Regions from separate parts of the Homo sapiens genome. Here region 2 is linked to region 1. Evidence: fine-mapped expression QTL. A gene starts in region 1. The other region holds a variant in brackets. All regions are shown on one strand. Distances are from middle to middle. Region 1 holds the start of TNFRSF14-AS1 (TNFRSF14 antisense RNA 1). Region 2 overlaps TTC34 (tetratricopeptide repeat domain 34).

The links. PIP is the estimated chance that this variant, and not a neighbour inherited with it, causes the effect.
Region 2: its variant is the best candidate, but not a certain one, in a credible set for the expression of TNFRSF14-AS1 in whole blood (INTERVAL, PIP 0.67).

Annotation. Positions count from the first base shown.
Region 1 is chr1:2,553,973-2,559,328 of GRCh38, reverse strand. TNFRSF14-AS1 (TNFRSF14 antisense RNA 1) reads left to right here and starts at 2,318. Exons shown (of 7, transcript NR_037844.2): 1 at 2,318-2,352; 2 at 2,633-4,605; 3 at 5,033-5,228. TNFRSF14 (TNF receptor superfamily member 14) reads right to left here and starts at 2,958. Exons shown (of 8, transcript NM_003820.4): 1 at 2,596-2,958; 2 at 1,495-1,603; 3 at 861-986. The coding sequence starts at 2,664.
Region 2 is chr1:2,794,317-2,799,675 of GRCh38, reverse strand. All of the region lies in intron 2 of TTC34 (tetratricopeptide repeat domain 34), which reads left to right. Among named protein-coding and RNA genes, the nearest start is that of TTC34, 4.7 kb to the left of the region's middle. The variant A/G (reference allele first, on the strand shown) is at 2,084.

The sequences.
Region 1 (5,356 bases):
TCACCTGCCACCTGTGCCCCCACATCCTCAGCCCAAGTAGACAGGTGCTTTCACAAGAGGGGAGGGGCATGGAACTGGGCATGCAGGTTGAGGTGTGAGCCCCAAATCCCAGCCTACATGCATGAACCCCCAAAGCACTCCAGCTTCCTCTTCTGTTCATGGCTAGCCCACCTGCCCTGTGCCTCCCTGTAGGCTCAGGCCCTGCCCCCAGGTGTGCCGTCAGCCCTGTCCCGCAGGTGCAGTCCTGCCTGGCCGCAGGGAGCACTGGCCATGCTGAGCCTGGCATGAGGCTCCAAGGGGACAGAGCCGTTGGCCGCATGGACAGGCTCTGCGCTCAGTGACTCAAAGGCCACCTCTGGGTCTGGTTCCCCTTTCTGTCTGCCTGGACTCAGGTGGGCACCAGCCTCCAGGTGACCTCTTCCCCTGAGGTCACAGGGGGAACCAATATCTGGAGGAGAAAGGGACAAGAAGCCCTGTGGGGAAGCAGCAGGCCCGAGTGCCGGCCGGAGAGTCCCAGCACCATCCCATTCCACTTTGCAGCTAGGGACGTGGGCACAGGAGAGGTCTGGGCACCCACCCCGGGCACCAGAGGAGCCAAGGACGAGGGATAAGGGTCAGTCGCCAAGCTCAGGATGGCCCACCTGGCGGTGACAAAGTGAGAGGTGAGACAGAGGTGGACGGGGGCCGGAGGCTGACCTCAAGGCGTCCCCTGCAGGGTGCATCCATGGAGATGGGGTTGGGACCTGGCCTGGGGCAGCCGGGGCCTTCCTGGGGCACTGTGGCCATGGAGAGAGGGTGCAGGGTGCGGGGGCATCCAGGCTGCCCAAGCGGAGGCTGGGCCGGCTGTGCTGGCCTCTTACCTGGGTCACACATTTGGCACTGCAGACACTTGCTTAGGCCATTGAGGTGGGCAATGTAGGTGCCTGGAGGGCAGGGTTCACACACTGTGCCCGTCAGCTCCCCGCAGGCCTCCTTCACACGATAACCTGCCGCCCAGAGAGTGGGAACTTCGCAAGTCTGCGGGAGGCCCCTTCGGGAGCCCACCCATCACTCCACCCGCGCCCAGAGCCCAAGCAGGGAGACACCAGCTAAGGGGACTCAAATGGCCCATGAGCCCCACGGGACACAGCAGCCCCATCAGCCATGAGCAGAGCTGCTCTGGGGAAAATCGGAAAGTTCTGGAAGCACATGGGGCCTCCTGGGACACCTGGCCCGGCTCTGGTATGTGCCCCCGAGCCCATGTCTCTGGCCACGGTGGGCCAGCCACGTCTCTCAGACCCACCCCCTGTGCAGTGTGACTGTGAGGGTCCCCCAGGGTGAAGAGTCCAAGCTGCTGGCCTGGGGGTTCTGCCCTCACTGTCTGCACACCTAGCCCCAGGGCTTCATCACACCCATGGCTGTGGGGGCAGAGAACACAGGGGTGTCTGGGGCAGAAGGGGGCAAGAGTGTCTGCCCTCGGCCCACAGAGCTGGCCCGCCAAAGGGCTGCACCTACCTGGACTGCACTTGGGGCAGCACTCGGAGCCCACTGGGTACTCGTCCTCCTTGCAGGACGGCAGAGCTGGGGCGTAGCAGGGGGCTCCCAGGAAGGTGAGATACAGCACCTAAGGGGGTCAGGACAGGCATTGGGAGATGCCCTGGCTGCCCTGTGGGCTCTGCCAGGCTTGGCCCCACAGCCTGAATCTCCCTCTGTGCAATGGGGAGGAGCGGCAGTGCCTGGTAGAGAGGACAGAAGCGGGCCCCAGGCCAGGCTCATGGAACAACCTTGCCGACCGCTGGAGCCCGGGATAGGGTGGGGACCGCCCCTCCTCCAGCCCTGATGACGCTGCCTGGCAGCGCGGAGCCCTGGGAACTGGAACTCTGCCCTCGCCAGGGACCCCACACCCCACACCTGGGAGCATTGAGCCCACTGGGCAGACAACCTGCCGGCCCCCCTGCTGGCCTAGGTTGGACCTGCTGACCCCTGAAGAGCCAGCAGGGGCAGCCAGGGATGGGCCCCAGAGGCTCACAAGCCAGACAGTGGGTGACAGGCTGATCAGGGCCACATCGGGGAGGGTGGCTCTGCCGTGGCCTCGTTCCTGGGCTGGCTGATGGGCAGTCGGGGGCCCCTGATGGGGATAGTGGCTGGACAGGCAGGAGTGCCACATGAGCATGGAGAGTATCCCCACCCCACCCACCTGGGTCCAGCCCCCTGCTGCACACTGATCTTATCACCTGTCACCAAGGTCAGGGCTGCCGGGGAGTTGGGTCACCTGCTCGAGGGCCCCGCCCAGAGACGCCCAGAGACACCCAGCCCCCAGAAGTGCCCACATCCGGCCAAATGGGGGCTCACCAGCTGCCCGTGGACGGAGTGGTGAGTGGGGGACACACGCAGGAGGAGGTCTGCTGGGTAGGGCTGTGGCTCTGCTGCTCACCCCACTGTGGTGAGCCCAGTGCTGGGGGTCTGGGTTGACCCGAGAGCCCCAGGCAGCAGGGGACGGGCTGGACGCCGGAGCCAGCAACGGCCAGGACAGGGGCATGGGGAAGAGATCTGTGGGAGGCCCTGGGGTCAGAACTGGGATCTGCGAGCAGACGGAGAGGAGGCTCGGGGGCTCACCAGCCTCAAGACGTCGGTTTTGGGGGTGGATCTCCAGGGAGGAGGCCCCCAGTCTCCAGGAGGCTCCATGCCTCAGGCTCAGACCGGCAGCTCGGGAACCCAGCTAGCAGGATGAACTCCAGCAGAGGAACTCAGCGCCATTGCTGCGGCTGTGGGCCAGAAGAGAAAGAGAAAGAGAAAGAGAATCCGCCTCGGTGTGACAAGCTGTGCCTCAGAACCCGAGCAGCAGGAGAGTGGGCAGCAGGGGGTGTCTGGCAGCAGAGAGGGGCTCAGGCCTGCTGGGTGGAGCGGCGCTGGGGGACACAGGTGGGCCCTGCGGGAGGCAGGAGCTGTCCAGGCAAAGCCGAGGGGAAGGGCCGGTATGAAGGAGGCGCCCGATGGGAGGGGCGAGTTCTCCCCCTGCACCATTCCAGTCCACTCCGGGTTTCCTGTAGAAGGGGGAGCCCCCCAAAGTCCATCTGTGTTTCCCCACCTCACTCACACACTCAGGGACCCTCGGCTGCTCCCCGGGGCGCTGACTGACATTTTTGCCGAATAAAGGGGCCCTGTGGGTTTCCTGTTCCCATCTCAGCTTCTGCTGAACAGGGTAAACTTCCCTTCCGAATAAAACCACCAGAATGCGGTCTGGCCAATTTCAGTCATAGACCCACCAGGCCTGTGTCCCTGCGTGAGGGGGTGGGAAAAGCCCAGAGTGCCCCTACCCGTCCCCTGGGAGGGGTGGAAGGGCAGCTCTTGCTCCCCCTGCAGAGACGCTGCGCGGACTGGGAAGGCTGCCAGCCTCGCCCGGTCTCCCTGTGGACCCTGCCCTGACCCCACCCCAGCTTCCTGGCTCCCTGCACCCCACTGGGCTTCCCTGCCCCACAGAGCCTGGTGGTAGGGAGACCTCCGGATGGAGACAGCCCACAGTCCCGGAGCCCCAAGGCAGGCACCAGTGAGTCCCTCGTGACGGCCTCGCTCCCTGCATCACATGGAACCTCGTGACCCACGTGACGACGCCAGTGCCCCCGTGGCCCCTTCCTGCTGCTGGACGTGATGCAGTCAATGGAAGCCCAGGTCTGTCACGCACCGCCTGTGCTTGCCCAGAGCAGGTCCCAGTCACCCCCTCTGGCACCGCCTGCTGCACACCAGGAACCCCCACCTCCAGCAAGCCCATCTGCCAGACGCCTGGCCCAGGACCGCCCCCTGCCCCTCGACTGCCCCCTGCCCCTCCTGGTCCTGACTTCAGCCAGGTGACCCCCTCCAGGGTCCAGCCCTGGCCCCTGGGGGACTCAGTGGCATCTGGTGGAAAGGACCTTGGGGATTGCGCCCACCCTCACCTGCAGGAGAGTTGGCAGGGTGGCCAGCCACAGGAATCTGTGGCAGGAGCCCGGGGACCTGCACCCCAACTAGAAAGTGTGCAGCCCTGCAGGCCGGCCCTGGAGAGGGAGCAGGCAGGGGTGAAGTTAGGCCGGCTGTGGTGTGCGACACCGTCCTGTGGGGCCAAGCGTCCCGAGCTCCAGAGGCAGGTGCACTCCTGGCCAGCATCCAGGGTGGACGAGCCCAGACCCCAATACTCTGAGGCAGGGTGGGGGACCAGGTGGCACCCAGTGGAGGAAAAGCCCCCAAGAGACACGCAGGAGCATGGACTCCCACCCCACAGCTGGAGCCTGGGAGAGGAGCCCCATCTGCTGTTTCCCTGGTGCACTCACATCCTGGCCCTCAGCGCCCCCTGCCAGGAATGTCCCCCACATGCAGAGCCATGTGGGTCTTGCAAGGAAGAAGAAGGGGGCCCCTTGCATCCTCCACTCCCGGGGGCCCCAGGAGGGCATGGGGGCTCCAGGGTGCAGGGACAGCACGTTCCCTCACCAACTCCCCAAGAACGCCCAACCTCCAAGAGCAGACACAGCGCCTACACCTGCCGGTACGGGGCTCCAACCCCACTCTCTCAGATACGTCCTCCAGAGTCGTCTCATCCACCCCACCCTGGGGAGGAGGGAAACTGAGGCATGGCAAGAGACAAGACTAACACAGGCATCAGTGAGACTCAGCCCCTCCTGCCCCTTCCTCCATGCCCCTCCTACCCCGACTTCAGCTCCCACACCAAGGCCCCAAGCCTGACATAGGGCCCCAGGTGCCAGGCCTCAAGGGGGCTGAAGGGAGCCCATCTGCCCCACCGAGGGCACAGACAGTGCCAGGTCTTTGCTGAAATGTCACCTCTTCCTTGAGGCCTTCTCTGATTGCTGAGTAAGCCCTGTCCCCGCTCCCTGCTCCCCGTATCCGCCCGCCTCGGCCCTCCGTCCCTTTTCTCCCTTCTCTGTGGCCTGCCCGCTCTCACAGAATGCAGACTCCAGGGGTCCAGGGTGTTACCTCCCGGGCAGCAGGAGGAAATGTCCTGGGCTCCCCACCCAGCGCTCAGCGCCCCCCGCTAAGTACAGCACTCACTCCTTCATCCATTCAGCGTGGGCTCTCCCGGCACCAGCACCGCCAGGCCCTGTGCAGGACCCCAGGGTCATCAGGAAGGAAATGAGGCAGCCCAAGGAGGCGGGAGACGGGGCCCTACCCAGCACCCAGCCATCTGCATTGACACGGCTGCCCGCAGGATATCACTGCCCCCATCCCGGGGCCCACCATTACCAGCAGGGAGAGGGAGGCAGGTGAGCACCCCGAGCCCCACGCCTCCTGTCGCGGGGACTCCCCAGACCCAATGCTGTGCCAGTGCAGGCCAGGCAGGGGGCTGAGGCCGAGGCCTGGTCATTGCCATCCTGGTCACGATCTGGTGAAG
Region 2 (5,359 bases), 240 kb before region 1:
AAAACGAATGGGAGACTGAAGATGGCAGCTGTGGGGCTAGATCCTCCTGGCCTCCCAAGGCCCTTGGATGTTACCCTCAGTCTGTGAGGCTGAGCTGTGGAGTGAGGTACTCTGAGCTGCATTTTTTTTTTTGAGATGGAGTTTCATTCTTGTTGCCCAGGCTGGAGTGCAATGGGGCGATCTCGGCTCACCGCAACCTCCACCCACTGGGTTCAAGAGATTCTCTTGCTTCAGCCTCCCGAGTAACTGGGATTACAGGCACCCACCATCATGCCTGGCTAATTTTTGTATTTTTAGTAGAGATGGAGTTTCATCATGTTGGCCAGGCTGGTCTCAAATTCCTAACCTCAAGTGATCCACCTGCCTCAGCCTCCCAAAGTGCTGGGATTACAGGAGTGAACCACCGCGCCCGGCGCCTGATCTGCATTTTTAAACTTTCCTCTGGCTGCCATGTGCAAAATGTGCCAGAGGAACCAGAGTAAGGACAAGACCTGCTGGGAGGCTGGGAGGCTGGGGGGCCGGGAGGCTAGGAGGCTGGGAGGCTGGGAGGCCGGGAGGCCGGGAGGCTGAGAGGCTGGAAGTCTGGGAGGCTAGGGGGCTGGGAGGCTTGGAGGCTGAGAGGCTGGGAGGCTGGGAGGCTAGGGGGCTGGGAGGCTTGGAGGCTGAGAGGCTGGGAGGCTGGGAGGCTTGGAGGCTGAGAGGCTGGGAGGCTGGCAGGCTTGGAGGCTGAGAGGCTGGGAGGCTGGGGGGCTGCGAGGCTTGGAGGCTGAGAGGCTGGGAGGCTGGGGGGCTGGGAGGCTTGGAGGCTGAGAGGCTGGGAGGCTTGGAGGCTGAGAGGCTGGGAGGCTGGTGGGCTGGGAGGCTTGAAGGCTGAGAGGCTGGGAGGCTGGGGGGCTGGGAGGCTTGGAGGCTGAGAGGCTGGGAGGCTGGGAGGCTGGGGGGCTGAGGGGCTGAGAGGCTGAGAGGCTGGGACGCTGGGGGGCTGGGGAGCTGAGGGGCTGAGAGGCTGGGAGGCTGGGAGCCTGGGAGGCTGGGTGGCTGGGGAGCTGAGGGGCTAAGAGGCTGAGAGGCTGGGAGGCTGGGGGGCTGGGGAGCTGAGGGGCTGGGAGGCTGGGAGGCTGGGGAGCTGAGGGGCTAAGAGGCTGAGAGGTTGGGAGGTTTGGAGGCTGAGAGGCTGGGGAGCTAAGGGGCTAAGAGGCTGAGAGGCTGGGAGGCTGGGGGGCTGGGGAGCTGAGGGGATGAGAGGCTGAGAGGCTGGGAGGCTAGGAGGCTGGGGAGCTGAGGGGCTGAGAGGCTGGGAGGCTGGGAGGCTGGGGGGCTGGGGAGCTAAGGGGCTAAGAGGCTGAGAGGCTGGGAGGCTGGGGGGCTGGGGAGCTGAGGGGCTGAGAGGCTAGGAGGCTGGGAGGCTGGGGGGCCGGGGAGCTGAGGGGCTGAGAGGCTGGGAGGCTGGGAGGCTGGGGGGCTGGGGAGCTGAGGGGCTGAGAGGCTGGGAGGCTGGGGGTACTGGGGAGCTGAGGGGCTAAGAGGCTGAGAGGCTGGGAGGCTGGGGGGCTGGGGAGCTGAGGGGCTCAGAGGCTTGGAGGCTGGGGAGCTGAGGGGCTAAGAGGCTGAGAGGCTGGGAGGCTGGGAGGCTGAGAGACTGGGAGGCTTGGATGCTGGGCAGCTGAGAGACTGGGAGGCTGGGACAATGGTTCAGGAGAGAGTTGATGGAATTCAGATCAGGGAGAAAGGGTTGCAGAGAAACCACATGTCTGAGAGTTAGAAGTGACGAGATTGTGGGTAGATTTAATGGTGGAGAGACAGGCACAGAGAAGGAGGGTCAGGAACGTTTTCTGAGTTCATGATGAGCAACTGAACTGTGGAGGGAAGCGCGGATGGGAAAAGGGGTGTCAGAGGTTTAGACGCCCCCAGTTTGAGACACTGCTCCTGCCCGGTCCCTTCACTGCCTCTTCCTTCTGGAGGAGCACCCAGGGCCACAGCCCAGCCTACTGCCAGCACTCTGCCACCCTCGGATCCCTGAGTGCCTGAGACGAGGCTGCGTCTCCACCCCAAAGGCTGCTGTGTGGATTCAGTAAACATGCAC[A/G]GCAAACCCTTAGAATAATGTCACCTACTGAGTGCTTTACACACAGTCCTTTGAGCCCATCAAGCCTCATGTCATTAGGCAGCCAGACAGGTGAGCCCTGAGGTGAGAGGAGCTCAGTTTGAAAAAGGGGGGTTTAGGGTCAGTGCAAATGAGAGGTTGAAAGTCAAGGCTCCCGACAGAGGCAGGAAGTGGGGCCACGAGGCATCCTGGAGCAGACAGGACCTCCCTGGCGTGAGTGTCCTGCAAGGCACTGCGGCTCCCTGCCCTTTCCTCGTGCCCCAGCCCCCATCCCAGGCCAGCAGACATCTGGAGGTGAGGATGGCAGTATTAGCTGCCGTTTACTGAACAGCTAGTGGGTGGGCCCCATTTGATGGGTTTGATGTGCATAATCATGGAATCTGCAGAGCAGCCACCATCCCCATGAGACACGGGGCTGCCAAGGGCATACGGAGTGCAGGCAGCTAGGACCTGGCCCCTGGGGTGCTCCTAACCGCCCTCCATACTGTGCTTCTGGGGAGGAGCAGCCCAGGAGGACAGGAAGAAGGAAGAAAATTCGGAGCCCGTGGGGTGACGGATCAGGGCCAGAAGAGAAGGGGGTTTGCAAGATAAAGACAGGTAGGCAGCCCTGAGAGTGGCCACAATGTCCGTAAGGAGAGGACAAGGAGTGTGCGTTGGGCGTGTGGTGCCGAGGTTCTTGGTGACCCCAACGAGAGGGTGGGGCAGGAACCAGTTAGAGAGAGCTGCAAAGTGAGCAGGAAAATTTGTTTCTGGAAATATGCTCAAATATGTTGAGCATTACCAGAAAATGATCAACAAAGTCACACCGAATCGTGAGCTTCTGAGGAAGGAGGGGACCCCGGGTGCCCAGAGCACAGGCACTCAGGGGCTGGTGAGGACCATGCCCACAGCAAGGGGGCTCCAGGAGGGAGGGGGCCTTCCACTTTAATGATCACGCAGGGGCAGGGCATGACTTAAGGGTGTGGGTGGGGGTCACACTAAAGCTCTCTGCAGAAATCCAGAACCCCCCAAGTGTTGCAGGCTTGGGGAATGTGAGGGAAGACCCAGCTCCTCCAGGAAGGCCACCGGAAGCTCGTCTGTGTCTGCCGTGGCTCTGGTGTGTACAGGGAACACCTGCCCTAAGAATTGTGCATCCATTAGACCCAAGTCACTTCGGTCAAGGGACTCCCCACATCGCCAGCACCAGCACAAGCATGGCTTACGATGAGAAGAGAAGAAATGAATTTTCCTATAACAGACTTTTTACAGATGCAGTTTCCTGCAACAAATGACCTTCCATCTGGAGGTTACTTTCCAAAGTCCTTGGAAACATTGCACAAACCAGTCGCTCCATTTGTGCTGCTGTGACAGAATGCCACGGGCTGGGTGATCCATAATGAGTAGAAATGAATGAGCTCCAGTTCTGGACGCTGGAAGCCCAAAACCAAGGCCCCAACAGGCTTGGGGATTCGGATTCCAAGATGGCGCCTTGAATGCTGCATCCTCACTTGGCACAAGACAGAAGAGCAAAGAGGCGAAAGGGGCTGAACTTGCATTAATCCCACCCACAAGAGCAGAGCCCTCATGGCCTAATCATCTTCAAAGATCTGACCTGTCAATACCATTACAATGGCAGTTAAGTTTCAGCATGAGTTTTGGAGGGAACAAACATTCAAACTGTAGCAAAACCCTTCTATAATCTGGGAACTTTCTTTGCCCTCTTTAGTAAGTAGACATGCAGCGATACACGATGTATGAGGACAAGATACAGAATAAATACCACTTTCCCTCAAGGTAGCTGCTAAGTAAGCATCCAGGTACCATGGCTCCCTACGTGTTTGTCTTACCAAAGGACTGGGATGACCACTTCCAATTTGTTTAAGGTTCTTCATTAAGAGCGCTAGGAAAGGTGACAAAGCATAGCTGTGATTCCTGCTTTCCTCCCAGCAAGATGCAGGGTCTGTTCTCCGTACAGAATCTGGCATGGCCTTGTGCCTTGCTGGGACCAGTAGAATATGGTAGAAGTGATGGCTTGTGCTTCAGGAGCCCAAGCCTCAGAGGCCCCACGGCTTCCACCTTCACCTTGGAATTCTCCCAGGGCCATGTAAGGAAGCTGGAATCATGACCAGTGAGAGAACACACAGACAGAGGCTCAGCTGACAGCCATCACCAAGGCCCCGGACACATGAGTGAGGCCACCTTAGAGTCTCTTGTCCGGTAAAGCCACTGGATGGCTGCAGCCACCTGAGTGACCCCTGGTAAGACCAACAGAAGAACTGTCCAGCTTAGGCCAGCCCAAACTGAGGAATAATTATGGGCAAATATAAATGGTTGGATTTTCCTTTTTGAGACAGGGTCTTGCTCTGTCTCCCAGGCTGGAGTGCAGTTGTGTGATCATGGCTCACTGCACTCAATCTCCCAGGCTCAAGCAGTCCTCCTGCCTCAGCCTCCCAAGTAGCTGGGACTATAGGTACACACCATCACAACTGGCTAATTTTTTTTTTTTTTTGTAGAGATGGGGTCTCACCACGTTGCCCAGGCTTGATTGTTGTTTTAAGCCACTAAGTTTTACAGTGGATGGTTATGCAGGAATAGTTAGCTGAAATAACTGCTGACCAGGTCAAAACATCAGTTTTGATGCATTTTAGCCAACATTTCGTCAAATATTATAATATAGAACTTAAAATTTTATGTTTCCAGAATTATATAATTCACTACATTAATAATTAATGGAATAAAGAACATATTATCATTGCAGTAGATTCAGAAAAACTGTTTTATAATATTTCACATTCCCAGAATTTTAACAATCAAGAAACAGAAGAAAACTTACTTAATTGAAAAAGATAATATCTATCCCAAACCCACCATAAATATCATACTCAATGGTGACAATTCAGAAGCCTTCCATTTAAAATCAATTACGAGGAGGCTGTGCACTCTCCCAGTTACTCATCATTGTGCTAGAGATCCTAGCCAATGCAATAAGGTAAGAAAACAAGACAGAACATGTAAGACCAGAAAGGAAGTCACAAAGTTATAATTATTCCAGGCAATATGATTAGCTATGTATATAGAAATTCCAAAAGAAGCAACAAAAAGGTATTAGACATTGTAGCAAAATTTAACAAAATATGCAAAACATTATTTATATTTATAAATACCAGCAACAAATAGATGCCCTGTGTCCCATTTACCACAGGGACAGAAAATGATTAAGTTCTAAGAGTCACATGACTTTATGGAAAAAGTATAAAACTTTATTGAAAGATAATAAAG